4 linked regions of the Homo sapiens genome follow. The protein of the gene in region 4 interacts with the protein of the main gene of each other region in a pairwise test. Each region holds a gene or a part of one and is shown on either strand. Other genes may lie near its edges. The genes, in order: AQP3, AQP1, GIMAP5 and EVI2B.

Evidence for each region.
Region 1: the proteins of EVI2B (region 4) and AQP3 interact in binary tests that used the Homo sapiens proteins (3 or more experiments, as listed by UniProt).
Region 2: the proteins of EVI2B (region 4) and AQP1 interact in binary tests that used the Homo sapiens proteins (3 or more experiments, as listed by UniProt).
Region 3: the proteins of EVI2B (region 4) and GIMAP5 interact in binary tests that used the Homo sapiens proteins (3 or more experiments, as listed by UniProt).

What each region holds. Positions count from the first base shown.
Region 1 is NC_000009.12:33,439,702-33,446,550, forward strand, and holds the end of AQP3 (aquaporin-3), read right to left. Parts: intron 4,192-6,849; coding exon 4,065-4,191; intron 3,758-4,064; coding exon 3,620-3,757; coding exon of another isoform or gene 3,504-3,619; exon of another isoform or gene 3,478-3,503; intron 3,270-3,477; coding exon 3,151-3,269; intron 2,818-3,150; coding exon 2,600-2,817; intron 2,511-2,599; coding exon 2,342-2,510; coding exon of another isoform or gene 2,289-2,341; 3' UTR 1,459-2,288; downstream 1-1,458. UniProt on the Homo sapiens protein: Aquaglyceroporins form homotetrameric transmembrane channels, with each monomer independently mediating glycerol and water transport across the plasma membrane along their osmotic gradient. Could also be permeable to urea.
Region 2 is NC_000007.14:30,920,939-30,928,017, reverse strand, and holds the end of AQP1 (aquaporin-1), read right to left. Parts: intron 5,953-7,079; coding exon 5,788-5,952; intron 5,455-5,787; coding exon 5,374-5,454; intron 4,569-5,373; coding exon 4,389-4,568; 3' UTR 4,192-4,388; coding exon of another isoform or gene 4,009-4,191; 3' UTR 2,502-4,008; downstream 1-2,501. UniProt on the Homo sapiens protein: Forms a water channel that facilitates the transport of water across cell membranes, playing a crucial role in water homeostasis in various tissues.
Region 3 is NC_000007.14:150,738,971-150,745,614, forward strand, and holds the end of GIMAP5 (GTPase IMAP family member 5), read left to right. Parts: intron 1-1,908; coding exon of another isoform or gene 1,909-1,914; coding exon 1,915-1,957; intron 1,958-3,212; coding exon 3,213-4,093; 3' UTR 4,094-4,676; downstream 4,677-6,644. Other genes in the region: GIMAP1-GIMAP5 protein, read left to right, coding at 1,909-1,957, 3,213-4,093. UniProt on the Homo sapiens protein: Plays a role in T lymphocyte development and the optimal generation of CD4/CD8 double-positive thymocytes. Inhibitor of GSK3A, possibly by sequestering GSK3A in cytoplasmic vesicles and impairing its translocation to the nucleus.
Region 4 is NC_000017.11:31,302,889-31,312,803, forward strand, and holds the end of EVI2B (protein EVI2B precursor), read right to left. Parts: intron 2,743-9,915; 5' UTR 2,722-2,742; coding exon 1,375-2,721; 3' UTR 882-1,374; downstream 1-881. UniProt on the Homo sapiens protein: Required for granulocyte differentiation and functionality of hematopoietic progenitor cells through the control of cell cycle progression and survival of hematopoietic progenitor cells.

The sequences.
Region 1 (6,849 bases), on a different chromosome or scaffold from region 4:
CAGGTGGGACTGGTGTGGCTGGAATGACCCTCTGCAGCCGTATTCCCCTCCCAAGGTTTGCCCTTCCTCCCCCCAGGGCCTGGGAAGGGGACACTCCCTCTGGCTCAGGTCCCTCCAGCATTCCAGACACGCCTCTTGGGAGCTGGGGACAAAGAAGGGATAGAAACCTAAAATGGTATTGCCTTCTCCTGCCCTCACCTCCGTAGGCAGATTCTTGGCTGTGTGACCCTGTGTTTGCCACCCGCCCTCTCTGGACCATGATCTCATCTGTGAAGGCTGGAGAGCAAAAGCTGGCTTAGCTTCTAAAAACCACAATTCGCCTGCCACACCCAGGGATCCTCTGGCTCCCATGGGGTTCGCTCAGAGGAGGGATTGGGTAGGGGATGCCTTCCCTTGTATTGCATGAAGTTTCCCTTGATGAAACTTGAGGAGGGTATGGTAAGGAAGAAGCAAATGAGAAAAGCTTCCTGTTCTCAGGTGTGCCGAGCCCGTTGCTTTTCTGGGCAAGTCAGAGCGCCAGAGTCAGTCTTCCAACCCCCTGCCTTACTGGGCACAGAGGTGCCTCTGTAGAAGTGAAGAAATGACTGAAGAAATGAAGCAGAAGGGGAGATGAGCGTGAACGCAACTGCGGGTCTTGGCACTTAAGACAGCTGACTAGAAGTTGCTGGAAGAGTGAGGCAGAGCAGGGATGGCTTCCCGGAGGAAGAGGCGTTAAAGCAGATCATGAGGACTTTAATGAGCAAAGATGTGAGTTGGGACTTTGGAGCAAAGTCTGAAGACACAAAAACACAGAAACACATAAAGTAGGCTGAGGTGGATGGAGCCATGTGAGAGGAGGGGTAGGCTCCTGACCCTACCTGGAGGTCCTGAACGCCAGATGGAGCATTGTGGATGGTCTCCAGATGGGCACTTTCAGCAGAGGTTTTGAAGAGATCCCTCTGGTTGCTTTGTGGACTGACTGGGGCAGGCCTGGAGGCAGGGAGGCTGCCAGGGGGGCTGTGGCCAAGGTCTGGGTGGAGGTTATGGAGCCTGAATAGCTGCAGGTTGTGGAGGACAATACAGGTTCCCAGTCTGATGGGTCTCCTCCAGGAACAGGGAACTCACCACCTCCTGGGCAGCAGTTCTCCCCATTGGGTAGCTCTGCAGCAAGATCTTCCCTGCATAGGGCTCAAGCCTTTCTGGGGTGATGTGTGGGTACAGGGATTGGGAAGAAGATTCCATTCATTATGCTGGGGGTACCCATGAGGACGGAAACTTGGGGGAAAGTTTGGGACCACTGAGTTCAAACTGAGAGCCTTGGTGAAGAGGCTCTCTAACCTCTCTGTATGACCCCCAGGGTAACCTGACCAGATCAGACACTCAGCCGGGCACCCTGGGTCAGTGTGGGCATGCGGAAGCTCCTTAACTGGCCCCAGAAAAGCAGCAGAGCAAGCAGAAAGATATTTGCACAACTGGAGGTTTTAGGCACATATTTATTTTATTTTTTTTAATATAAAAGTAAAAGAGTACATTGTTGAGTAGAGGATTAAAGGAGTGACGACCCTTTCTAAAGTGGGGTCTCCCATCCCGGATCCCTAAGACTGTAACATCTGCTACATACATTAAAAACAAAACAAAACAAAAGCAAACATGAAACTTATGACCTGACTTCACTCCACCCTTCATGCCTGCATTATGACAGAAACACGTCCCACTGCTCCTACTTATGTATGTACATCCAGAGCTCCAAACCTAAGCTGTGGCCCCCTCCTCCCAGCCCTACCCACATCCACCCTACTTCCCAAAAGCCTGTAGAAGCCCCCACTTAGAAAAAAAGGCAGACATACACATACACAGAAACACATATCTATCTGCAGCTCCTCCATGTGAAGCCCCTGAAACATACACACCCTGGAACTTTCCTCTCCTTATGCACAGATGGACAGGCTGCCTTCCCCTGTCTCTGGGCTCCCCCAATAGCCAGAATCCCTTCCGACTGGTCCCTTGCCCTGAATATCTGGGAACCCCCCCCACACACACACACCCCTGCACACACATGCACACACATGCACACACATGCACACACACACATACCTGCTGCCCATTCTCTTCCCTTGGGAGACAAAAGGATGTATTGACCCAAATTCCGGTTCCACCCCAGCTTAGGGGCAGTGGCCTAAGGTGCTATTTGGGCAAGGTCCAGTGGAAATCCTGAAGGGGCTGTCTCGTGGGGTGAGGGTAGATAGGGAGCTCCTTAGCCTGAAAGGGTGGATCGTGAAGGGGGCTTCTTGGGAGTGGCCCTTGGACAGTCAGTGGATGCTCAAGGCCAGGGCAGCGGAGTGGGGAGATGGCCCCTGCCCACTCAGATCTGCTCCTTGTGCTTCACATGGGCCAGCTTCACATTCTCTTCCTCGTTGGAGGGTGGGGGCTGCTCCAGGTGGCAGCCGATCATCAGCTGGTACACGAAGACACCCGCAATGGAGCCCAGGAGTGGGGACACGATGGGCACCCACCACCAATGCTGGCCGGTCCTGGGGGGACAGACACTCATAGTCAGGGACATGGGGGGCAGGGCAGAGGAGAGGCAGGCTGGGGTGAGCTGGGTGGGGGCTGTACTCACGTGAAGACTGCAGAGCCCCAGCCCGCAAGGGCTGTAAAAAGGCGGGGGCCAAAGTCCCGGGCAGGGTTGACGGCATAGCCGGAGTTGAAGCCCATGGAGGTGCCAATGACCAGGACCACCAGGCCCACGGTGAAGGCCTCCAGGCCTCGGGGGACGGGGTTGTTGTAGGGGTCAACAATGGCCAGCACACACACGATAAGGGAGGCTGTGCCTATGAACTGGGGAGTGGGGAGAACAGGGTGAGCTGCAGCTCCCTCCCTTTCTCTGACCCCTCCTTCCATCCCCCGTCTTCCCTCTAGCTCTTAAACTCTTGTCAGCGCCCGCCCATGCTCTTCTCCTGAAAGCAATGGTGCTAGAATGTCTGCGTGACAAGAACCCGCTGGAGAGCCGCATGTTTTGTAAGTACTTGCCACCATGTTCTGATGCGGGTTACCCCACAGATTGGAGAAACCCTGCTACAGTCGAGGAGTCCTGTCCCCCAACCAGCCCATGAGCTACCAAGGCAACTCGGTCCCCTCCCTGCGTTCCCCTCACACGTCCCCAGCCCATACCTGGTCAAAGAAGCCATTGATCATATCCAAGTGTCCAGAGGGGTAGGTAGCAAAGATGCCGGCTGTGCCATTGGGGCCCGAAACAAAAAGCTGGTTGTCGGCGAAGTGCCAGATTGCATCTGGTGACAGATTAGACACACAGTGAGTCGGGGGAGAGGCCTGAGCCCAGACTTCCCTCTCAGGTGTGCCCTCCCCACCCTCCCATGAGTTATGGGTAAGTAGCAATACTGCTGTATTGCAGCAGGCAGAGGGGGTGGCGTGGGGTGGGGTGGAGGGCCTGAGACTCTGTTATTGCCCAACTTGTTTCTTTCCCTTCGTGCCCCCTACCTTGACCCTGTGCGTGAATGAGTGAGTCATGAGCCCGGGGCCTGGGCAGGTCCTAGCCGTCTGTCATCAAAAGGCCTGGTGCCAGCAGGTCCTGAACAGAGGGACGGGGGTAGTGGAGGAGGACAGGGTGGGGAATGCTTACCATAATACAGCCCAAAAACTATTCCAGCACCCAAGAAGGCTCCCAGCGTCTGTGCCAGGGTGTAGATGGGCAGCTTGATCCAGGGCTCACGAGCCAGGAAGCACATGGCAAAGGTCACGGCAGGGTTCAGGTGGGCCCCTGGGCAGAGGGGACAAGGGACCTATTAGCTGCAGCCTGCCACAGTCGGCAGGCTAGGGTCCCCTGAGAAGGGGTGCAGAGAGGGGTTTCTTGCACAGGATGGCGGTTGGTCTATGTAACAGGTCAGCTGATAATCTCTGATTCCAAGGTGAGAGTCGAAAGTTCTAAGTGTCAAGTTTCTTCTCCACCCTCCTTTCCCAAGGGGCCAAAGCAGAGGCCACAGCTGTGACCTGCCCTTAGGAATGCCAGGACACCTAGTGGGAATGCTATTGAGGGCCAAGGGCTGGGGGCAGGGTTAAGGCCTTACCAGAGACCTGGCCAGCGATGAGGATGCCCAGAGTGACAGCAAAGCCAAAGGCCAGGTTGATGGTGAGGAAACCACCGTGGGTGCCCCGGCTGAGCACAACCTGGGCCACGGAGCCACAGCCAAACATCTGTCAGGAAGAAGAACAGGCAGGGAGGGTGAGGACCAGCAACTCTCACTCCAGAAGGAAGGGGTGAAGCCAGCAACATGCCCACTCGCCACCACTGGGAGGACTAGAGGCGCTTCCTGGAACCCAGCCCAAACCCCTTCTGCTGTAATTGCACTTTCCAGAAAAAGGACACATGCCTTCCCACCCCACTGTCCCAACTCTAATATGAGAGGGCCCTATGGAAAGGGCTGGAAGCAGGGTCTGCGACTGGGATCCTAGAAGATGACTGAACCATCTTCACTGATTTTCCTTGAATTTCAGCAGGCGTAGGTGTAGGGGAACAGCTTTCACCTTAGCACAAGTTTCTCCACAGCCCTTCAGGCCTGGACCATAAAGGTGGGAAGCCTCTCACTCATCCCCCAGCTGCCCCAAAGAAAAGCTCATGTAGGCCCGGTGCAGTGGCTCACACTGTAATCCCAGCACTTTGGTAGGCCGAGGTGGGTGGATCACCTGAGGTCAGGAGTTTGAGACCAGCCTGGCCAACATAGTGAAACCCCATCTCTACTAAAAGTACAAAAATTAGCCAGGCGTGGTGGCAGGTGCCTGTAATCCCAGCTACTCGGGAGGCTGAGGCAGGAGAATCACTTGAAAATGGGAGGCAGATGTTGCAGTGAGCCAAGATTGCGCCACTGCACTTCAGCCTGGGCGACAGAGCGGGACTCCATCTCAAAAAAAAAAAAAAAAGAGTTGAAAAGAAAAGCTCATGTGGTGGTGGTAGTGGTGGCAATGGGCGGCATAAATAAATAGGGAGGAGACCAGAAGTGAGGTTGAATCCACTTCTCCTGAGTCCAGGATGCCAGAGCCCCAGCCTTCACCATGTCCCCCTCAACAACCTCCCCTTCCTTTACCTGTCCCTGTCCCAGCGTCTCCTCTCTCCACCCATGACCTCTCTGCTCTCAGGGGTCCAGATTCCCCACTCAGATTTGGAGGTCCTACAGACAGGGATCTGTGTGGCTCCTCTCACTATCCCCAGCCCGGGACCCAGGGCTGTAGAAATGGGGAGATCGGTTCTAAACTTTCTGCCAAAAATGGGGGAACTAAAAGAGACTAAGAGCCCTGGTGTTCTACAAATATAGAACATACTGGAGCCAGCTGTGGTGGCTCACACCTGTAATCCCAGCACTTTGGAGGCTGAGATGGGAGGATCTTGAACCCAGGAGTTTGAGAACAGCCTGGGCAACATAGTGAGACTTTGTCTCTATTTAAAAAAGAAAAAGAACGTACTATGTCTGTTCCCCTTGTTCAAGCCTGAAAATACTTCTGCAGCAGCTGTAAAGCATTGTTGCCCTGAGCCCCCTGAGTGTCCCTCAAAGCTGCTCCAATGCCTTGCCCTGGTCTCCTCTCCCACCTGCCCATAACTAAAGGTTTTATGCCCACAGAGCAGGCAGTTTCCAGGACCTGTGCTACAGACCTTGTTTATTCTGACGGGTCAGTGCCTGTTGTACTGGATAGTTAAGCATTTTGATTATCATCCCAGAAAGACCAAGAGATAACGGAGAAGCCAGCGGCAATGACATGGGGCAAAGGTGTGCAGGCAGGTGAGAGCAAAGATCAGAGATTGCAGGTGTATGTGTGAGGAGGGGTGGTGGGAGACAGGCACGTGAGGGTCTGAGGCGCCCTGCCCTGCTTGGGAGGCCCTGGCAGCAGCTCCTTGCCTGCCAAAGGCTCAGACCTGGCTCCATCCCAGGACGCCTTGGAGGGAGGAGCTGTCAGAGCCAGTTCCACCACCTTGGGGCTAATCTTCCTCTTCCTCCCCCAACCCCTGCCCTGAGTTCTCGGCCAGCACCGCCCCCTGCCCTCACACCAGGTATCTCAGAGAAAGGGGCTTTCCTCACCCCAAAGCCAACCCTGATTCTGCCACTGCAGGCCTAGGCTCCCAACACGCAGGTAGGCAGGCAGGCACTCACCCACTACAAAGGGATCCCCAGGCCTGCCCCTCCAGTTCATGCAGTCCTTGAAGTTCTGCTTCTCACTGATATCCAATACCTCACATCCATCTGAGTCTGCAACCCTTCCCCTAAAATTTAACACTCTTCTTTTGTGGTCTGGGATAAGCCTGATGATCCTGGGGCTCAGTGGGAGGACTAACGGCTCCTTTGTGAGAGAGTGAACTGAGACTTGGGAGGGAATGAGGAGGCCCCTCTAGGAAAATAGAAGACATCATCCTCCCCTAGCCTGGCTGCTCTAAAACAGGTGGCTGGACTCAGGACTCCGATAGGAGTGAGGGCTCCGAGGCAGGAGAGTGATAAAGGCCACCTCCTATTGCCTTCTTGGCACAGGAGAGAGGGGCTAGGGCTGGCTGATAGGACGACTAATCTTATGGGAGGCTGTGGATAAAATGCCCCCTGTGGCTTCCCCACTTCCTATTCTTGGAAGCCAGAAGTGGGTTTCAGCCCTCCTCTGCCCATAGATCCTGATCCTCAACCATTTGGGGATCCCTACTTGCCCTTAGTTAGGCTTCCTAGTCCACAGTGGGCCAGCTGGTCTGTACTACCCAGGGCTGGGGCAGGAACGGAGTAACCCACTCACTGCAATGTAGCAACTGAACACAGAGGAAAACAGGTGTAACCACATGAGCGGCTGAAAAATCAGAGTAACTGGGACAGGAAATAGAACATA
Region 2 (7,079 bases), on a different chromosome or scaffold from region 4:
CATTCACTGCTGGGCTCTGGCTGACCTGATCTTCCTAGGGTTCCTAGGGGGCCTCAGAATAAATGGAGCAATTGCAGAACCGTAACTTTTTGCTCTTGTGAATTTAATGGAAAGACAAATATTCTAGGATTCAGTGGCTGCTGGATTACATCCTGCTTCCTTCTGGGCCAGGTGCAGAGGGCATGACCTTCCAAGCCAGCTGAGCCATTCCGTGTGCAAGTCTCAAGGGGAGGGCCAGGAGGGTGTCTGATGGAGATAGTGACCTGTTGTCTGGTCTCATCAGGGACCCAGTCAGAGATGCGTGACAGGTGCCCCTCACCAAGTCACATCACATGTGCAGTTGCCTGAATGTTCAACAGCCTGAGGAAAAAGATTGAATCCTGGGAGTTTTCAGGAAATTTACTACCTCCATTAAAGTCTGATGAACAAACAGACAAGGTCTCAGCTGCCCAAGGAGCACCACTTCATCTGTTATTTCCTCAAACCTCTCCCTGTGTTGGGCTGTATAGAAGATGAGAAGATCAGAGTCAGGGGTAGCCCCAAAGAGATGGGGTGCCTGGAGCACTAAACCCACAGGCTGGAAGGTGAGGAGGAGTCTAGGATCCCTTTAGCCCAAAGCTGTTGCCCCCTGGCCTGATGGGTAGCTGAGGGCCTGTCTTAGTGCATTATTATCCCTCATGGTGCAGCATTGCCCTTCCCCTTCTCAGGTATTCTGCTGGGTGAACATGGTCCTCAGACACTTTCCTCCCAAGGAGGGGGAGAGTCAGGCCGTGGAAGGCAGCAGGGAGGTTTGGGTGACACCACGTCCAGTTAGCCCTGGAATGAACAGGCTTCTCCAGATGCCAGATGGCTCTGTGGCTGGCCCTTCTCCTCCCTTCCCCCTCCCCATGCCCACTCTGCAGGAGTGGCTGCCTTCTTCATGCAGTCCGGCTTCCTGGCTAGCCCAGAGCTTAACTTAGCAGGAATCATGACAAAACCGGCCCAGACCACATCGTGCAAAGAGCCTGATCTTTGAAGCCAAGCAGAATAGGTTCAAATCCCAATTCTGCCACCAACCTGCTGTGTGGCCTACGGCAAATCATTTCATCTTCAGGGGCCCTGGCGTCTTCTACAAATGGGGACACGTATCTCTACCTTCTAAGGATGTTGTAAAGATTAGAGCGAATGTATGCAAAATCTCAGAGAGATTCTTCACACATGGTAAGTGCTCAAGAAATACCAGTTCCCTAATGGCTTATTCAGGCCCTGCCTCGTGGCTCTAGGATTCTAAAAGTCATATCTAAGCAATACACTAAAGAAGGCTGTGCCATGGAGCGGGGGTGAAATGGGGGTGGGGGTAGAAGTGAATGAGTAGGAGTTGAGGTGGCGTGGCTGGGCCCATAGTGGTGATTGGGAGGGCTTCAGGCCAAGAAGAATGGGACAAATTAAGGAGACAAGCTGAGAAGGGCTGTGAGAGATAGCCTCGGCACACCCTCACAGGCAGGCCTGGGATGCAGCGGGCTGGCCCATACCCAATTCCCATAGCTTGGCTGGCACTCTGCCATTTATATGCCCCTCTTAAGCTGGGAGATAAGCTTCCTTATCTATTAAATGGGCTAGAAGTTCTTGCAAGGGAACGGAAAAGAGTGTGCAGATGTGATGCACTGATTTGCAGGGACTTAGACAGCCTAGTGACCCAGGGCACACTTAAATTAGAAACCCTGTTCCATCAACATGGCCTCAGTCTTCATTGCGGATGCCTAGCCCCTGGCTCCCTGAGACCCAGCCCCCCTTATATCACCATCAGCCAGGCATTCCACAGAGGGGACAGGAACCATGTGTCTCCCAGGAGCAGTGCTGGGGCCCCAGGACCTGTCCATACACTATTTCCTGCCTCAGCCCACTGCCGTGGTGATACCTGTTCCCTATTATCAGGCACTACTAAGTGTGTGTGCACGTCGGGAGGGTCAGGAGCCAGGGTCCCAGTCTCAGCCTGAAGTAGCCCTAACTGCACTGGGCTCTGATGAGTGAGTCTGTCTCCCATGAGACGCCCAGCCCAGGTCAGATGGGTTGCAAATGTGAGTGGAGGGAGGGAGGAAGGTGGAGCAATCCCTAGTGTTCCCTGGGCCCTGCTCTGTGGAGGGTAGAGGGGATGAGGGGGCTGTTAGACTTCAGCCCTGCTTTCCCCCATCCCTTCCATACTCCGGAATCAGAAATGGCTCCCATCGGTCCATTTAAACTGATCAGAAGCCTGCCCCTTTTCCCTGCCCCCAGGTCTCCAAAGTCATCCCACTGGGCTCTGGAAGTCTCCTACTAGGGGCAGGACCCTGTGTCCCTCAGATGGGGTTCTGTGGTGTGGCTGTATCCATTGCCTGAGATCAGGGGTCTTGAAGGCAGAAGGGGAGGCAGTGGCTCCTCCTCAGACTGGGTCTCTAGCAGTGGCCTGATTTCCTTGTGGAGTAATCCAGAAACATTTGTGGGGACACAGCATCAAAAGAAGAAAAACTACAGGAAGCCTGAAGGACCTTACAAGTCATTTTCCTTTATTTTCTTAACATATAATGAAATTCCAACTCCAAAGAGACATATATGCAGAGCAGACAGATGCAGGGCCTTGGTGTGCAGCAGCCTAGAACCAGGCAGGGGGTGGGTGTGACCCCTCTCCCCTCCATCACAACTCTCCCCACTCCTGGCCCCTGGCCATTGCCCAGGCAGAAACTGAGAAGCTGGAAATGAGAGGAATCAGCCTCGTGGTCCAGGGAGTAGCCAGAGACAGGGCCTTGGTTACTAGGCCTGGCCAAATCATTGTCTAGCTGAAACCGTGGGCCTCAGTTTCTTTATCTGTTAAATGAGCTAGAAGTTCCTGCTAGGGAATGGAGAAGAGAGTGTGCAGATGTGATGCACTGGTGATAGTTAAGGGCCTTCTGGTTGTCCCTCTGCTTCTAAATACCTGCGTAATTGTGTCTCTTGGTTTCTGTTGCCATCATGGCTAAGTGCACAGTGGTGGAGCTGCTCTGGCCCTGGTGGAATTGAAAGGACTTATGTAGATAGAATCCAGCCTTCAAAGCTGATCCTGATCTCTGAACTGTCCTTGGGCTGCAACTATAGCTACCTCATTAGGTCAAGGCTGACCTCTCCCCTCCAGGTCAATGCAGAGGGAAGGCTGTGGCCAGGGGTCATACAGCAAGCCTGTGCAGGTTATTCAGCTGCTCAAATGCCTCTGATCAGGAGCTCATGAGCAAGGGAAGAGCTTGCTCCATCCTGGTCAGGACCAGCTGAGGGCTTGGAAAACCCCCAGGCCCAGCAAGGGCATCTGCCTCCATGGGCTGACCTGCATCAGGGTCTTTCTGTCCTCAGGCTTTGGGCTTCAGACAGCTCAAGTGCTCTTTGATAAACATACACCAGCATAATGGTGACCTGTGTCTACACTGACAAGAGGGAGTAGAGAACTGAAGAATGAGCAAGATAATGCAGTGATAGATGGAAAGACCAACTAAAACTCAGAGAAGTAACATGGGTATTTCTCCTTCACCCTCTAAATGGCTTCATTCTGCAATAGCAGGCCCTGTGTAGGGAAGCCTCTCCATAGGGAACAGAAAGTTCCAACTACCTGGCTGTCTGTCGATCTCTGCTTTGTAGCCTGTCTGCTCTGCACACATGTACACAGAGGCGTGTGGCGACAGTCATGCCCCTGGGGAAAGAACACAGGGCAAGTGGAAAGAGCAGCCCTGGTCTAGACCACGTCTTCTGGACCCATGCTGTGTTTGCACTTAGGGGCTGCAGGCCTGTAGAGCTCTGCCGGTCCCTGCCACTTTGCAGAAGGAGGTCACTCAGGCCCTGATATAGGGACGATTCCAAGGTCAGGCAGTAAGTCCGAGCGGGTCAGGGGCTTGGGAGCAAGCAGAACTGAAGGAGCAAAGCTTGCCCCCTCCACTGCACCTCCTGGGATCTCTTCCCCCTCCAAGCACCATTGGGAGCAAGGTGCATGTTAGGAAAAGAAGGAGGGCCGTGCCCAAAGGCACAAAGCAATTACGGTAGAATCCCAGGCACTTGCGCAGGTGAGTCGGTGAGCAACTTTGGGGCGAGGGGGGACTTTCTGGCACACCTCCCATCATGCTCTGAGGGGCGACTAGCAGGTGGGTCCCTTTCTTTCACCTCCTCCACAACTTCAAGGGAGTGGGTGAATTGGTAAATCTTGGTCCCCAGGAAGCTCTGAGGCCAGGAAACAGAAAGAGAAAGAAAGAGATAGAAACACCCCCATAAGAGGCTTGACCATGCAGGTCTGGCAGATCTTGGGGAAGTGACTTTGGCCAGCTTGTCAGAGTGTCTACAGTATGGATTTCACCCCTCCCCTCCCTCCGCCCGCCCCTGCCCCTGCCCCCTACGTGGATGCCCGGGCCAGACCCCTTCTATTTGGGCTTCATCTCCACCCTGGAGTTGATGTCGTCGGCATCCAGGTCATACTCCTCCACCTGGCCGCTGGTCCACACCTTCACGCGGTCTGTGAGGTCACTGCTGCGTGGGGCCAGGATGAAGTCGTAGATGAGTACAGCCAGGGCTCCCCCGATGAATGGCCCCACCCAGAAAATCTAGGAACAGAGCAGGTGTGTTCAGAGGGCTCCACTCAAAAGCCCCTGGGAAGCGTTCCCTAGGTTACCCCACAGCCCACCACCCCGTTGGACAGGTTTTTCCCACCTGGGATGGAGGCAGGTAGGAGAGCCAAATCCTAACATCATGATTCCGGTGCCCCTCAGAACCGGCCCAGGCCAGAGTACGTGGTAGGGTCAACTCCTTGCCTCTGTGGGGCCCAGCTCAGGCATGGGCAGTAGCAGCCCCTTCTTGAGGAAGGCCACTGCCCCCACACTCCCAGCTTTGGAAGGGCCCCAGAGACCATTGTCTAATGCAAAGCTGGCCTAGCACATCCACATCCACAACCATAAGAGCTAAAATCCACTGAGCGCCTCCTCTGTGTTGAGCTCAGTTTACAGATGGGGAGTGAGCCCTTTCCTCTTCTCGGCCACCCTGAGAGGTGGGCACCACCATATCCCCCTCCGCAGCTCAGGAAACCAAAGCTCAAGCACACTGCGCAAGGTCATGCTAAACCCGAAAGTGGCTGAGCCAGGATTTGGAGCCCCACTTTTAACCACGCAGCTGGGAAGACCTGGAGGCCAGGCAGCATGGGGCAGGGCCGAGCTGGGAGGGCAGAGACTAGGCCTGAAAGTGCTGGCAGTGTGACCCCCAGCCTGCCTCTACATGGCAGGCCTCAGTTTCCTGATTTCCTGTCCTCTGGCTGTCTCCCAGAGCCTCCAGAACAGGAAGGGACACTGTGAGGGTGGGGTCAGGCTTACCATGGGACACCAAAGCTTCCCACCCCACCCCCCGTGGGTCTCCTACCCAGTGGTTGCTGAAGTTGTGTGTGATCACCGCGGAGCCAAAGGACCGAGCAGGGTTAATCCCACAGCCAGTGTAGTCAATCTGTGAGGGAAAGAAACAGAGGGAGGGGCGAAGGCAGAGAGTCATAGGTGAAGAGAGAGTGAGAGGAGGGAGAGGTTGGAGGGAGAAAGAGAACAATCAGGGTGGGGGACAATGAGACCCAGGGAAAGAGGAGTGCTGACCCCAAGCTGGGCAGGAGGTCCCTGTGCTCCTCTCCAGGGCAGGACCCTGCCCCCAGCCCCCAGCGCTGACCCGCCATCCTCCACCCAATGGCAAGAGCCCTGTCGGGAGTCCCACTGGCTGCCCATGGCAGGGCACCCCACCAGCCCCCGCCCTCCCTTCCCCCACCTCCATCTGGGAGGGCCCCTGACTCACAGCCAGGAGGTGTCCAAGGGCTACAGAGAGGCCGATGGCAAGGGGGGCTGAGCCACCAAGGTCACGGCGCCTCCGGTCGGTAGTAGCCAGCACGCATAGCACCAGCTGGAGGGTCCCGATGATCTCGATGCCCAGGCCCTGGCCCGAGTTCACACCATCAGCCAGCTGCAGGGGAGAGAGGTGGTGAGGACTGGTGAGGAGGGTAGGCAGGGACTGTGTCCCAGGACCCCAAGGATACCCAGGCCTCCCAGGCCCAGGCATGAAGGGCGGACCCTCAGATGGGCCTTCAGAGCCCATCACAGGGTCCCAGGCAAGCCTACACGGCAGGTAGTGGAAATCAGGCCTTGAACCCACCCCCTGTGTTAATGAAACTCCAGCCCAGCCCCTAATACCTGCCTAGACCCAGGCCCCACTCTGCCTAGAAGCTGGAGAGGCCTGGGGTGAGCTGGGGCCTTTGCATCCAGCTGCATCCAGGCCAGGGTATTCTGGGGTACCAAGACCAGAGGCAAGGGGCGAGCCCCAGGCATGAAGGTGATGGTCAGGAGCACTCCTAGGAGAAGAGATGCAAAAAGGTGGGAAGGCCCAGCAGGGGACACGGCTTCATACCCAAAAGTCCAGAACATTCCACCCCATGCCCGACTGCATCTAAATTCCAGGGCTGAGGAGGCCTTCGGTGAGGTCCTGGCTCCCTCCACCCCTCTTTCTCCTCTGTGCCTGCCTCCCTATTGTCTCCACCCTCTCTCTCTCCTTCTCCACCCCGTCTCTTTCCTTGGTCCAAGGCCTGTCTCCCATTGCTTCTGGCCCTGCCCTCCCTGTCTCTCCTTCTCTCTTCTTCCTCCCCACTGCTGGCCTCAGCCTCACCCTCCCTCTGCCTGGCCAGATAGGCCCCGCCACCACCGTCTGGCTGCCACTTACTCCTGGGCCACTTTTAGAAACATGACTCATGGAAAGAGAAGGGAATGGAAGCTGCTGTGAGGTCATGAAGGCCCTCCCCATGCAGCTGCCCCCGGAGGACCCCTCCCCAGGAAGCCCCAGCACCTTCCACTATGCTTTGTGGCCGTCCCAGGGGCTAAGTGCACTCACACAGGGGAGATGGACCACATCAGCAAAGGCTCACTTGCAAAGATGCCCACTTGAGGCCACTTAGGCTGCCTTCTCCCAGGCAGGGCTGGTGCACCCAAACACTTCCCAGCTGGGAGACAAACTACCCAGCTCCCATCCTCAGGATATGGGAGTGTCTCCAAGGCCATAGAGAATTTTGCAAAATCCAAGGTAGGGGGGCACACCTTGGA
Region 3 (6,644 bases), on a different chromosome or scaffold from region 4:
AGCTATTGTTGCTGGTCATTGGCTAACATAACATAGTTTGACTGGCTTTTGTGACAGGCAATTGGCTGTTTTAAAAGAAAAGACCTCAATTCAGAGAAACTCCTGCCACCAGCAATTTTATTTTTGAATAACCTTTTATAAGAAATGCACTCAAGATTTTGCAATAAAATTCTGTGTGTTGGTTTTAGGGTAGGCTTCTAGCTGTCCAATTAATTTGTCTCCTGACCAGGGAGTGGCAGCATTGTACACATGTTCCAAGAGGTTTGTTGACTTTTTTGGAAAAGTCTCTTTTTCCACCTGTGGAATCAAGGACAATACACAGCAAAAGGAGCCATTTCCTGATGCTAGCTCCATTGTAAATATGTGACCTTTGGCAGGTCATTTAATGCTCAGTTTCCTTGCATTTTAATAGAAATTTTAAGATCAGTTTTGATCACATCACAGGGAATTTGAGAGAGCAATTAAAATAAGAAGGATGAAATAACTTTGAAAATTATAAATGTATTCACAGAGGCTTATTACAATTATGATGTTCATAATCAATATCATTACCACTGTCATCTTGACCCTTACCACATCATTATGTTGATTCCAAACCTCAGAAAACGTCATCTAAAGTAGAGAGGATGTCAGGGAACTGGTGCTATTTTAGCAAAAGCCAGAAGCATAATTTACCAGAGACGAGAACAGGGTGTGGGAGAGAGGAAAATGTTCTTCTCTGGGCTTAAGAAAAAGAAAGAAAGGAGAGAGGGGAGGGTAAAGAGGAAAGGAGGAAGAAAAGAAAGAAGGGAAAGGGAGGGAGGCAGGAAGCTGTCTTAATACATTCTGATAATATAAAAATAGATTTCTTGACCTAAAGAAGGCCAAGAAAATCCACTGAATGAATAGAAAAATGTGGAAAAGATAGAAATCACAGAAGTTATTAAAAATTGAAGTTTATAAATTACCAAAATAGCAAATAAACCATGAAAACTGTTTTTAATTTAATGATAATCAGTAAAATGTAAGTTTAAGCCAATTAAGACATCCTTATTTATGCCCATAAGGATGACAGGAAATTAAAAGTGTAATATTACTAAGTGCCTGTGAAGATTTGGGGACTTCTTATAAATGGGTGGTGCAAATAGGAGTTAACTCAACTCCCTGGGAGTCATATTTGGCAATAACCAGTCACGTGGAAAATGTACATCCCCAATACTGTTGCACAATGCTGGAAACCCGGAGCAGGCAATGAGTTGTTCTTGAATTCGGCCTGAAGTTGATTCTTTCTCTTCAATCACCTCACTACCTCCTCTCCACCAACCGTCAGGGTGGGAAAGCGGTCATACCGGTCCCCCTATACCATTTCCTCTCACGTCAGTTCTTCGTGTCCCTGATCCCCACTTCCATCCTCCCACTGGACAGTACCTTGTAATTTCCTCTCCGCCGCTGGAATGTCCATTTGACACAAAGACTTTCTGGGACTGGAAGTTTCCACTACTTCAAATAAACCAATCTTATTTACAGCAAGGCAATTTTTTTTTCTCTATTCTGGTAAGTTTGTTACTTTAATTTCAATTTTTTTAATGCCTACTCTTTGTTCCATAGAAGAATGCTTTCTCCATTTCATGCCTTTCTGGTTGGGGGAGATAATCAACTGATTTGCTTCAAAATATTTCCTGATTTTCTGTAAGTTGAGGGGAGGGAAGTAATCGTGCACTATTTTAGCATAACCTAACATCTAACATCACCTGCTTTGTTTAAAGTTATTTACAGATGTTTCAAAGTAAAGTATGAGTTAGAAAATTAGGGATGGAAATGGCTCATTTGAGAATGATTATTCTTAGATGTCTGAATTGAGGTGCCCTCAGGCTCTACCAGCTCCCAAACGTACATCTGCTTTTTATCCTTTTCCTGTTTTTATTCCAGGAGAGAATGGGAGGATTCCAGAGGGGCAAATATGGAACTATGGCTGAAGGTAAGAAAGTCTTGAAGTTCTCAAGAGCCCCAGACACTTGGGAGAATCACAATTCTCTCCCCATCTACCCCCATCTAAAACACAGTGGCAGAAACCCATTCATTTTAAATGAAGAAGATAAAGGCAACTATCATCACGTGTGTGTTATCAAACCATCACACACACACACAGACACACACACACACCATAGTGTGATGCTCTCCCTGCATCAGGTATGTGGGAAATGTGGAAAGGAAACCAAGTCATAGGTTGAAGGGTCTGGAAGCAAATGGTGAATATGTTTTCTCTTTCTTTGTCTGCTGACAGCTCAAAAAGAAAAGGTCCCCATAGGGATTTAGTCATTGTGCTTGCTACAAAACACCACAGAATAACTTAAGAAAACGAAGAACCAACCCAGAGTGGGAGAAATAAAATAATAGATTTTTAAGAGCCTAAAATGCACTTCGAATTCATTTGGGCTCTAGAAATCCACAGGTTCTCCCCTCTTCGTGCCTGAAGATTTTCGCTCCTGCCACAGTGTCACCCTCTCCAACACCACTTCTGCTATAATTTTGTGTGCTTCAATCAGCCACATAGATGAGCTTTTCAACACACATGCTTCTATTGAGCTTATCTTCCACCTTTTTGAGCCATCCACCCTAGGGTCATCTCCCAGACGCTGCCCTAACATTAACTACAACCTATGTCATCTCAATTTCAAACATTTCACTCCCTATCCAGAGGGCACAGACCCAGGGACAGGCAGCTGACCCCCGGCAGTGGGTCACTATAGATTTGCCAGTGGAGACCTCCTTGACCCTCAAGACTTGGATGAATGTGTGGAGTGTGTCTATACAAGTGTGCCTGGAAATGTGTGGGTGAAAGAGAAGTAATTGGATTTTCTCACTTGTAACTACTAATCCCCTGCCTCTTTCTAATAATTCTCCATGGAGCTGGCCTAAACACCACGCAGGGGAAAACACAAGGACCATTTTCTTTCAGGAAAGCTCTATTTGCCACAATCCAGATGAAGTGCTTAAAGCATCCCCTTAATGCAACAGTTCTAATTCCTGGCTGTGGATCCAAGCATGGGCTTCCAATGGGGCTTTCTACATGCAAGATTCACCTATAGTTGTATGCACACTTTTATGTACACATAAATATGTCTGTCATTCTGGGGAGGACGTTCATAGCTTTCATGAGATAACCATGAACAATGACCTAACAGTCTTAAGAATCATTAACTTAGTAAGATACAAAACTTCGTTTTCTACAGGTAGATCAGAAGATAACTTGTCTGCAACACCACCGGCATTGAGGATTATCCTAGTGGGCAAAACAGGCTGCGGGAAAAGTGCCACAGGGAACAGCATCCTTGGCCAGCCCGTGTTTGAGTCCAAGCTGAGGGCCCAGTCAGTGACCAGGACGTGCCAGGTGAAAACAGGAACATGGAACGGGAGGAAAGTCCTGGTGGTTGACACGCCCTCCATCTTTGAGTCACAGGCCGATACCCAAGAGCTGTACAAGAACATCGGGGACTGCTACCTGCTCTCTGCCCCGGGGCCCCACGTCCTGCTTCTGGTGATCCAGCTGGGGCGTTTCACTGCTCAGGACACAGTGGCCATCAGGAAGGTGAAAGAGGTCTTTGGGACAGGGGCCATGAGACATGTGGTCATCCTCTTCACCCACAAAGAGGACTTAGGGGGCCAGGCCCTGGATGACTATGTAGCAAACACGGACAACTGCAGCCTGAAAGACCTGGTGCGGGAGTGTGAGAGAAGGTACTGTGCCTTCAACAACTGGGGCTCTGTGGAGGAGCAGAGGCAGCAGCAGGCAGAGCTCCTGGCTGTGATTGAGAGGCTGGGGAGGGAGCGAGAGGGCTCCTTCCACAGCAATGACCTCTTCTTGGATGCCCAGCTGCTCCAAAGAACTGGAGCTGGGGCCTGCCAGGAAGACTACAGGCAGTACCAGGCCAAAGTGGAATGGCAGGTGGAGAAGCACAAGCAAGAGCTGAGGGAGAACGAGAGTAACTGGGCATACAAGGCGCTCCTCAGAGTCAAACACTTGATGCTTTTGCATTATGAGATTTTTGTTTTTCTATTGTTGTGCAGCATACTTTTTTTCATTATTTTTCTGTTCATCTTTCATTACATTTAAATCTCTGGACCCTGGAGCACTTCTAATGTATCACCCCATGGAGTCATTGTTCTAATAATCACCAATTCAGACTCAGATCCTCGTGGTCTATGGAGCATGCTGCTTGCTGTCTGTGCAGCTCCCATTTCCCCTTCTTCCTGATAGACTTGGAGCTGTGTGCCTCCACTCCAAGGCTGCCTGCCTGCTGTAAACACTATTCCACTCTGTCTGCCAACAACTGCTTCAGGAATGGGCCTGAGATCCCATGCAGGTCCCTGAGAAGTGAGTAAAAGTCCGCAGAGGTGGGGATGGAAGATCTCTCCTTAGATAGAACCTGTCTTCCTCCCTGGCATTGTGGGGTCTGGGCGTGACACTGGGACTCTCAGCAGCTTTGTGCTGCCAACCTGAGATTGAAGGCAGTGCCTCAGAGCAGCACAGAGAGTTGGGGCCCCCTGAGCCCTGAGCCACCAGCCCTGCAGCCTGCCCTATCTCCGCATTTCCAGTTGTATTAGCCAATAGATTTCCTACTTATTTAAGCTATTTGAGCTCCGGGTCTCTTCTACCTGCATTCTAAAACATTCAAAGTAATAAAAATTTCTCCACATTCCTTTTTATCCTTTAAATCTGTTGGAACTTCCCAGTCCACATGCTTCCTTTGAGCAAGTGGCATCTAGAATAAAGGAACAGGGTTGGCTTTTCTTGTTCCTAAAATTAGGAAGAACCTCCTGCTCCTACTGAAGTGCCTGCCACATAGTGGACATTCCCTGAACTCTGAGTAAAGCAAAACACTTTCAGATGGATGGATTGCATTGACGAATGGGAGTGGGAGAGGGTCAAGGAAATGGGGTGCCCTGTACGCAGGGCTTTCTCTGTGCTTTCTTCTCAGTTTGGCCAGGGGCCCAAAAGAAACACAGCTCACATTTCAATGCTCTGCAAGGAATCACTTTGGCAAATGTTCACACATGAGAAAGGTTAAGCAAACTCTTTCTCCTTCTCCACTGTAAAATGTCCTTGGATCAACTCTCCAGCTCTATTTCTTTGGAAGTCAATGTCCACAGGGTGGGGGTGGGGGACAGGTTGTTGACTGGGTACCAGGCAATCCTGCTCACCATGAAAGCGATTCCTTGTTAGTAGAGGGAGTGTGGACTGGGCGACCCAGGAATGGACCATCCCCACACTGGAAGGAAGCTACTCTGGCAGCGCCGCTCTGTAATGCTTTCTTAAGATCATGGCTATGTCAATCAAGAGTGCCTCCCTGGAGGGAGGGAGAGCCCAGACAACATCTACTGGACCAGTTTCCAGAGGCTTCAAGGTCACCACACTTATATGCAGTCTTTGTCTCCCTTGGCTCAGCCCACTCCTCCTCTGCAGGGCTGCTGCAGTGAAGGGAACCACATTTCAAAGAGTCATCCAGGACAGAGGTGAGTTCCCTCCCGATGTTGCCATCAGAGACCACACCGCAGGACACCTCCTCACCTCTCCCGAATCTGTCCTGTCCATCCCCACTGCTATTGCTGGAGTGCAGGTGCTGATTTCCTCCGAATGTTATCCCTGTCCCCAGGCTTATACTTATACAACCCAGCTGCCACCTGATTTTCCCAAGACACACCAACCTGCTCAGAAGCCTCCAGGGAGGATTCCAGAAGGCACCCTTGAATCCTAAGAATGAGGCCCAGACCCCCCCTCCCCACCCAGCCCCAGTCCCCTGTGCACCCCTCCTCCCATGTGCTGACTCCCATCCCCTTCCTTAATCACGTGTCCCTCAGCCTCCAGTGACTTCCCCAAGAGGCAAGGATGTTCCCAGTCAGCTTAGCATCACCCTGTCTAGGAAGCTGCTGCAGAGCCTGCCGTGGTCTCCTTCTTGCTGACATTGCTTCCAAAAGAAACCTTCTCCTACAGCCCCACTTTTATGTGCTTTCATCCCTCCACCCCACTACCCCTCCTGGGGAGCAGAAGCCTGTTATTTTTTATCTTACACTCCTGGTGCCAGGCATTGACCCTGACCCTCAGTACTCACATCATAAATGTCTGTGAAGCTGGACTGAATTAAGTAAGTCAAGCTCAGTTGGAGCAGTTTGGGAACAATGAATTGAGGAGGTGGTCCTCAGTCTGAGAACTCAGGGTTCCCAGGGTTTGGGGAGCTGGCACACAACATACTCCCTGCACATGTTTGGAATCAGTTCTGTGCCAGACGATGCAGGAGTCAGTGCCATGGAGCCAGACGTGGAGCTTCATTGCCAGCAGCAGTGCTGGAGGATGCTGCTAAGGGGCATCACAGCTGAGCACCTCAGACTCACCCCAGAGTAGTCACTTGCCCATCCAGCCATGGCCTGTCCGGGATGGCTGCAGGTCTCCCTTACCGAACACAAAGAAGAAGGTGTGGTGGAGGGACCCAGGGACTTCCTCTTCATCTGATTACCTGTTTCCACTGAATTCCCGATCTGCCCATACTTGAGCCCCATGTCTGCCTTCTTCTCTTTGCTGCTTGAGATGGGGAACACCACCCTTTCCTCAAATTCCCATGGACATCACACGTCACTGTCCTGGATGGTACTGAGTTTCGGGTTAGAGA
Region 4 (9,915 bases):
AATGAGGAAGACAAAAGATGTAATATGACAATAAGTATCATGCTTATTCAGGAAAAGTAAGAAGCTCAAGGAAGTGTTTCTATAGATTAAAAAATTAATGGTCAGTAAAGATGGCTTGAAAGATTTTAGGAAAAACATTGTATGTAAAATTCCTGTGTCCAAAACCCTACTGGTTCTTATTAAATATGGAGCTTTGTTAATGTCATGAATGCCAGTGCTATGAATAAATGCTATGTTCTACTCTGAAAATCCCAGAACTATGAGTGGTTCTCCAAGACTGGGCTACCATTTTATTCTAAGTGCTTGTTTCCCCCTGGAGTTAGATGGGACTAATGAGGAAGAATATGTGCTTGTTGGGCAAAGGAGCACTTCTGCAGACAAAGGCTGGCATCCCCAAAAGTATAGGCTGATGACCACTCTTGACTTTGACAAAGATTGGGCCCATTCCTACTCTAATAACTCAGACTTACCAATTGTCAGATAATGGATAAAGATGAAATTCTGTGTAAGAAAGGTGACTTAAGAGTGGATAGCATCAGAAAGTATAAGTTTAGTAAAAAGTTGAGAATCATCTGTGTTTTGATAGTCTCTTTTCCTGAAAAAAAAATCACCCAAAGTCACCCGTATTTAGAATGAAGCCATAGTCTTCTTTTCCTTTTTTTTGCTTTATAAAACTTGATTTTGTTTGGGTGTTTATAAAGAAGAAACTTGTAAAGATGCCAGTTTTAAAATTTGTGCCCCCCCAACATGGTAGGAAAATATTTACATTTTATGATGCATCCTCATATTTTTTTCAGGGTAAATGTTCCTAACCCAACCCTTCAGTTGATGTTTTAACATGTTTGTTTTACTCTTTGCAATGAAACCAAGAAGAAAATTTCTCTATTCTCAAACATGCATTTTAATCTCCCATTCCCACAAACTTGGAATATTTATTTAATACTTGAGGTATTAATTTAAAACTTGAAGCATATACTTAGTCTCTTATTCCTCTCCACCCTGGTCTTTGAAATGGAAACATAAAAGTTTATTCACCATAATTTTATACACAGCTTTTCAGGGGAAAAAAAACTGTACTGGGTAATAAGTATATGTAGATTGTTTCAGAGTTCTTAAATTATTGAAACATACCATTTACATATGTAAAATGTACTATACTTTAAAGATAGGTACTATAATTAGTAAATAGATTACTGTTAAATAACTTTTTTTAAAAAAAAGTTTCATCTATGCACATAGGCTCTGAGCAGATTTCAGATAGTTCCTGAATAAAAATCAAAATTGACTATCAGTTGCCATTTTATATATGTTAACATATAAAGAAAAAAGAGTCATTTGAGGATGGAAGATCAGCTAAAAAGCAAGTTGTAATATTTATAACAGTTCTGCAGGTGGAGGTGGCAGGGATTCATTAAGATCTTGATCAGAGTTGGGAGGAATAGAGAACTCCTGACACTGGATCTCAAGGTTGGAATCTTCTTGGTTTTTCATAAAATCTACTGGTGGCAGGGGCAAGTTAAGTGAGTCAAGCGGTGGAAATGATTGTATTATCTCAGATTTATGATCTCCACAGTCTTGATTGAGACAGTCCAGAGATGGAGGGAGACTAGTAGAATCATTTGGAAGAGGAGATACAATTGTCATTGTGGGTTTGTCAGATTGGTTACTTTCCTGTCCTTCCAAATCCAGAAGGGGAGGTGGTGGAGGCAGATCTGCATCATCTGAAGAAGAAACAGCAGTTCCAACTGTTGAACCATCAGCACTATCTTCTGATGTACCATTTACTTGATCTTTTATTTTCTCTGTTTTGGGGTTGTTGGAGTCTTCAATGTTTTCACTTGATTCAAACAACTTAATTTCTAAGTCATCTGCTAAAAGTGTGCTTTTGCTTGGTTTCCAGGGTGTAAGTGAAATGATTGATGTACGTTTTGTGGATATTTCATTTTCTCTGATGTTATCCATACAAATGTCAGGGGTTTCTCCATCAGCAAATGGAGATCTACCTGCCCAATTTTGATCATTTAAAACTGGTTTCCTTAAGCATTTCCAAAGTACAATGATGATTATAGCTACCAACATAGAAGTCAGAAGTACACCAATTAGTATGGCAGCTATTGAATTATAATTGTTTTTTTGTGGGGTTTGTTTGTTACTGGTAGTATCTAAGATAAATCCTGGTGTACTCCTAGGTGAATTTTTGACAGTTGATGTTGGTTGTGTGGATGGATTATGAACAGTTATTTGTTTTCTAGAAGGGATCTGGACAGATGATGATTGTTGAGTAAAAGTATAGACAAATGACTTTGGTGGTTGTGTGGTAGAAGTACGGGCAGATGGTAGTTGTCTGGCAGAGGTGAACACGGCTTGCTGGGAGGAGGTGTTGGCTATTGGTGTTGGTTGTTTGGTGTTGTAGGCAAGTGGTTGTCCAGCAGAAGTATGTGCTTCTGGTTTTTCAGAAGAGGTATAGACAGCTGGTGTTGGTTGTCCAGCAGTGACTTTGGCAGGTGATATTGATTGTCCAGAAAAAGTGTCGCTGAATTGTGTTGGTTGACCCAAAGGATTCCCTGTTGTGTTTTGAGAATTAGCCAATACCTGTGACATTGATGATGTGAATAAGGTAGGCTGTGACTGCTTCTCTGTTGTAATTGTCTCTGTCTTTGAAAAAAATGTATTGTTCAGGTGTCCACAAAACAAAATTAAGATGAAATATTTGGGATCCATTTCAGAATATTTCCTCGTTATCTATAGCGGGTTTATAATGAAAGAGAAAGACAGTTAGGCGTCATTGGTGTCTAGTTAAAAATTTGACTTTTCATTATGATTCCTGGCATAAAGTAGGTAGACATTATTCCTAATTAGTAGTAGTTGATTAGTAGTTATTATTCCTAATTTAGACTTGATACACTGTAGGTTTGGTGTAACAACTCTTGGATATACTCTAACCCATCATACAGCATTTGGACCTCATAAGCAGTGATCTCTCTTCTTTTATTAATACAAGTTCTGTACTTGGCTCTGCTGCCCCTCTAGCTTCATTATATTTCAGTACTTCACTTAGTCATACTTCTCAAAACGCATAGGCTCTATATGCTGGATCCATGTGTTCTCTACCTTTTTTCACCATTTTCTACTAGAAATATATTGATTCTCCTGCCTTGAAGAACACCAGTGATCATCTGTTACCTAATCTAATTGTTCTTTATTTCTTCTCTCCCCTCCCCTCCTTGACCACATTAGACACTACTGTTCCTTCACTAATATTCAAGTAGCTTTTTGTAATCAGTCTTCCTTTCATGTTACTCTCACTAGCTCTTTTTCTTCTGCCTCCTAAATATGGTTAATTGATATTCTGTCCTCACCCTTACCTACTTTTCTTTGTTCCTGATTCTGTAAGATTTTAGTTCTCAGCTTTATGCCACAATTCCTAAACCTGTACCTCCAGCCTACATCTTCTTTGTCCTAATTCTATTTGTGTGACTTCTTGGTGGATTTTTCCATATTTTATATATATAGATAGATAGACATAGATATAGATATAAATATCTCCCACTATCAGCAAATTCAACATATTTAAAATGGAGTTCATCTTTACCCTCACAACTGACAACTGACTCTTCTCCCAACTTCTCTGTATCTGTTAATGGTACCACTAAGTTTCTTAGGCACAGAGTCTATTAGTAATCTTTGAAGCATCCTTAGTGTCTCTGTAGCGTGGTAGCCTTATGTTAATATTGCATATTTTTAAAGAATTTCATTCAACTCAGAGTCTTAGGCTTAAAATCCTAGAGTGATCTCTGAATCTGGTGGAGTAAATTCAATCCAGTTGGTCAAGTAGTCCTGCTGCTGCTTTCATTCATCTATTGGTAAATGCCACATTTGTGTGGAGCTCTGTTCTAGGTTTAGGAGATTAAAAAAAAAAAAAAAAGATAGTCACTGCCTTTAAGTGTTTCAGATTCTAGTGATAGAAGCAAACAGTAAAGGCCAGGCGTAGTGGCTCATTCCTGTAATCCCAGCACTTTGGGAAGCCAAGATGGGAGGATCGTTTGAGGCCAGGAGTTCAAGAACAGCATGGACCACATAGTAAGATCCCATCTCTAAATAAAAAGAAGAAAGAAAAAAAGCTAAAAAATAATTACAATAATTTTTTTTTTTTCAAGACAGTCTTACTCTGTCACCCAGGCTGGAGTGTAGTGGCACAATCTGGGCTCACTGCAAATTCCGCTTCCCAGGTTCAACTGATTCTCCTCTCTCAGCCTCCAAGTAGCTGGGATTACAGGTACACATCACCACGCCTGGCCTATTTTTGTATTTTTAGCACAGACGGGGTTTCACCGTGTTGGCCAGGCTGCTCGAGAACTGACCTCAGGTGATCTGCCTGCCTTGGCCTCCCAAAGTGCTGGGATTACAGGTGTGAGCCACCACGCCTGGCCCAATTACAATAATTTGATAAGCTTTCTCATAAAAGTATGCAGGAGATGTACAGAGAAGTTAACCTAGCCTGGAAAGGCTTCAGTGAAGTAAAGCTTGAACTGAATTTTAAAAGTCTATAAAAACTAATTAAGTTTCCAGCCAGGGAGAGCAACAATGTGGGCACAGGAAAATAAGGCACATATGAAAGTTTGGCAGATAGGGCTTTTTCTGGGATGTGGTAGATGCTAAAACTTGGAGAGTTAAGTTTCAGTTCTACTTCTCCCATCTAACTACCTGTCTAACCATGAGAACTAGTTGCTTAACCTTTCCTGTTCTCAATTGCCTTTCCTCTAAAGTGAAGAGTTCTACTGAGACAATTTGCAACTTTTGGTATAATATACTTGTTTTGCACATCATCAAACACAATGGCAACTATTTGGTTATCTCTTAACATTAGGGAATAGAAAATCTTAGGGTGTTAGATATTGGTATACATGATTAGAAACTATAGTTCTTCTGACTCATAAGCCTATATTTAGAGAGATTTGATGTTCTGTTGGAAGGTGCAATAAAGGTTTTACAAATTACCTTTTCAGCATATCTAAACAGCATATCATTGCTTACTCCTCTACCACTTGGTACACAGTGATGATAAATGGCCCTGTTTTAGTAGAAGAAAAGATATGTGATTTTTTTCCCTATACGAATAATTCAAGCCTGAATTTTAAAACAGTTCTCCTTTGAACTCTCCTGCACACTGCTGAATTAATCTTAAAAGTGTGCATGATCAGGTTACTACTGCCTTGCTTGAGGGTTTAATTTCTGTTAAGATAAAACTTCCTTTTTCTTTTTTTTTTTGGAGACAGAGTCGTTCTGTCACCCAGGCTGGAGTGCAGTGGCATGATCTTGTCTCGCTGCAACCTCTACATCCTGGGTTCAAGCGATTCTTGTGCCTCATCCTCCCGAGTAGCTGGGACTACAGTAGGCATACACTACCACACCTGGCTAATTTTTGTATTTTTAGTAGAGACAGGGTTTCACCATGTTGTCCAGACCGGTCTCGAACTCCTGACCTCAAGTGATCTGTCCGCCTCAGCCTCCCAAAATGCTGGGATTACAGGCATGAGCCACCACGCCTGGCCTGTTAAGATAAAACTTCTAAATTGAGTTTTCTTCCTTCTGGCTTGAGTTAACCAGTCCAGATTCACGTATCATGACTGAAACTTCTTATCCAGCCAAATGCATCCCTTTCCCACCTTGCATACTTTCTAAACACACGATTTTTCCCTGCTAAACAGACACTTCTATGCTGTTTTTTACCCTTCTCAAGGGTGTTCTTTTTTTTTTATTTTTCTTCCAGACCTAGCCTCTTCCCCTTTCTGGCTGCATATCTGAATCTGTCCTCATCTTTCAGACCTCAGTTTAAATTCCCCTTCTTAACCCAAGTTCTCTGTGACTGACTACAGCCCAAACAGATCAGTCATTTACTGAATTCCCCCTAGCTCTCATTTATTGTTTTTATGGTTCCTTACATAATTCATGTATGTATCTCACTCACACTTCTATTCTCTTAAGTAATTGTGTTTACTTTTCACATTTTCCTATACCTACTTCCTTGAACAAGATTATAAAGAACCTTGAAGAAGGCAGAAAGGAGAAAGAAAAATACTTATCTAGAGCATATTATGTGTTGTACTATCCCAGTTTTGCATACTTTATTTCACAGAACCTTCAAATGACTTTATAAGGAAGGTAAAGGGATCCCTTATTTACAGATAAAGAGACAGTGTCAAATGAGTTAAGCAGTTTGCCTGATGTTATACCACTCGAAGTGACAGATTGGGAGTTTGTACCCAGGGCCACCTGATTCCAAAGCATACATTCTTTCTGCTACCCTTTATTGCCTCATGTTTTTATATTTTGATTTCTTTGTAGTTAATGCCTTATATATTAGGAGCACAGTAAACATTTAACCTGTATTGGGCTTCTTGATTCCTTTCCATTTTAGTTTTTGCTTTTTACTAGTACTTCTACCAGAAAATAAGCAGAGGCAGTGAAATCTGAGTTAATAAATTCTGCTTTTTATCCATTTTGCAAAAGATTTAAAAGGGAAAATTTGAACACTTTTGGCATAGATATAGGGATTTGAATAATCTCTGGATGGTCATCATCCATGCAGTTCCTACCCATTATTCTTATAGATTACAAAAAAAGGCGGGGGGACTTCTTTAGAAAATGTTATTCTCTTCAGAACTTCATTTTAAAAATCTGTTTTAATGCTATGCAAAGCATCAGAAAATATAAGCCATGAATTGTCTTTAGCCAAAAATGTTTCCTCTTTTGTGACTTTGCTTAAAATAAGGAAACCATACGGTTCCTCTTTTCAGTTAGCTGAAAAAGGCATTAGAGAAGGACAGGGCCCAAACAGGAACATAATTTTAAACCCAGGTTAGTTTGTAAGATCAATTTTGATAGGCTCCTATCCTCTACTGTCAGTAGTAAGCTGGTGGAACCCTCCATGTATGAGATTTTCACTTGTCAGTTAACGGTTATGGCAATATTAAAACCAAATTCCATTTTTTGCCTATCCTAACACTTTCTACCACTCTTCAGTTAGCTTTTTATCCTCCTAGGATCTGCCACATCAGAGTACTAGAAACTGTATTAGAATTCTATGATGGCAATTCAGTGTAGTCCAGAGAAGGAGAAGAAAGATTTAAAAGAGGAATAAATAGGGAATATGGTAGTGGAAAAAACTGACTTTTTTCCCAGCGGTAATGAGGCCAGCGTTACTACCAGTGTGGAAGGTTATTTAGCATACACATTTTAAAATATGTAAGTGGTGTGTACCTGAAGTACCAACATTGTTTCTGTAGGTAAAGAACAATATTGGGCAGGGGAATAAAAAGGAGATTTAGAATAATATAAAAGGCAATGCAAAGAAATACAAAATAACACAAAAGAGAAAAAACAAAAACTCTAGGAAGCAGCGAACAGAAAAGAGGAAGGTCAATTGACTAGAGAAGATACAGAAAAGAAGAAAAGTTAATAAACAGGTGAAAAAAAAAGCAGTGGTTATATAATTAGCAAGAAGGCAGTGTAGATGATTGAAGTAGGCAAAATGAAGTTGGGGGTGGGGGGAGATGATTGAAGTAGATGAAAGAAGCAACGGCAAAATGCTGCTCTGTTGTGGCTGGCCTGTGTTTGTGAGTGCAGGGAGACAGTAAAGAGGAGCTTGCTTTCTAAAATGGAGGACCAGAAGGAACCATCCTTTCAAATTCATTTACCTTTCATTTCAGGCTCTCCTGTCTGCTGTGAGTATCCTTACCATCCTCTCCCTTTTTTTTTCCCTGACACTATCCAGAAGCATACCTAGCAATTATTCCAAAGAACCCATGTACCCGTGTACGTTTTATATAGAGTTTTCCAGAAATCCCTTAGTCTGCTGCTCAAGCAAATTTGTCAGCCCTCATATGCCGGTTTTTACTCATTATTATAGGCTGGCACTTTGAGGTTTAAATCTGTGATTTTGGTTCTTTTTCTTTGCTGAATATTTAGAATATTTTAAAAAGAAAAACATAAATTTAAACATTTTAAAGACAGTTACAGTGAAGCAGGAGTCCCCGTGTATAAGACATGTTCTTTTTTTTTTTTTTTTTCCGTTTGGAGACAGGGTCTCACTCTGTCACCCGGGTTGCAGTGCAGTGGTGCAATCTCAGCTCACTGCAGCCTCTGCCTCCTGGGCTCAAGCGATCCTCCTCACACCTCAGCTTCCCTAAAGAAGTTAGAAACTGCAGGTGCACTACACCACGCCCAACTAATTTTTGTATTTTTTGTAGACATGGGGTTTCACCATGTCACCCAGACTTGCCTTGAACTCCTGGACTCAAGTGACCCACCCACCTTGGCCTCCCAAAGTGCTGGAATTATAGGCATGAGCCACCGAGCCCGGCCATAGACATGTTCTTATAAATATAATGCATAAGTACTTAAAGGGTCCAGCATTTAAAATTGATGCTGTTAAGTTGGATATGTTAGGAAGTATGCCATTATCTTTTAAAGAGAATCAAGATTTGGAGAGCATATCCTAGACAAAAGACAAGTATAGATAGCTGTATCAATTACTTTGATATAATAAAAGTTGTGATGCAAATATAATAGATTAAAATTTAGCAGTAGTATTATCTCTAACTAGTGAAGTTTTGAAACCGTAAAAGAAAAAACCAGCCATTCTGCATCTTGAGGAAAAGTGGAAAGAGAAATTGACCTTCAACTACAATAGGAAGTATTTGATGACCATCTTGTATCATGATAGTGACCATTTACTGAGCACCCACCAAAGGCTAAGCAGTATCCTATTTTAATTAGCTAGGTGGTGGTTTTTTCATCCTACAGATAAGGAAACTGAGACACCACGATGTTGGGTAACTTGGCAGTATCACAGCTCTAAGTAGTGGCACTAATACAAAAATCATGCTAATCTTGTGCCAGAACCGTTTCTTTCTATCACATTTCACTGTATGTGCTATACTGCCTTTCATAGAAAAGTTATGAAATAGAAATGCTTTATGAAGGAAGGAGATGTGAGTTGGTGGGAATTACACGTAAATAACACTTGTAGGTAGTCTTAGATAAAGGGTAGGAAAGAAATACCTGAAAACCCATTTTAGTCCTGATTCTACGAAAACTATTATAAGAATTTGGAATGGTTTCTATAAAGTGTCATATTTAGTAAGTTTACTGAAAATTTTGTGGTGATTTTTTTTTTAAAGCTTGGACATTGAAAGGCATCAGATTTATGTTTCTCAATTCAAACTTAATCAGAATTAAAGTTTCCTTCTAAGTAGAATTATGTGGGAATTAGCTGGAAAACACAGGCACTACTAGTAAACTTTAGATTTGGGACTAACCCTTTAAAAACATGTATGGGACCAGGCGCAGTGGTTCCTGCCTGTAATCCCAGCACTTTGGGAGGCCGAGGTGGGCCAATCACTTGAGGTCAGGAGTTGAAGACCAGCCTGACCAACATGGTGAAACCCCGTTTCTACTAAAAATACAAAAAATTAGCCAGGCGTGGTGGTGGGTGCCTGTAATCCCAGCTACTCAGGAGGCTGAGGCAGAAGAATCTCTTGACCCTGGGAGGCGGAGGTTGCAGTGAGCCTGTGAGCCAAGATGGTGCCGCTGCACACCAGCCTGGGTGACAGAGGGAGACTCCATCTCAAAAAAAAAAAAAAAAAGTATGGGATTCTATGACAAAAACACACCATAAGGATCGATGGGAAATTTTTTAATTTTATGAAATATGACAGTGAAAAAAATTTAATATAATTTTATGACTTTATGCATAATGAAATAAACTAAATATTAGAAGTAGAAAAATATATAGACAAGCCTAATCTGAAAAAGAGATAAATATCTTTATTTTCTGACTTCCACAGTAATTACTTAGAAGAAATCCTTCTAAGAGAAAGTCATGAATATTTATTAAGTGTTGAAATGGGATAT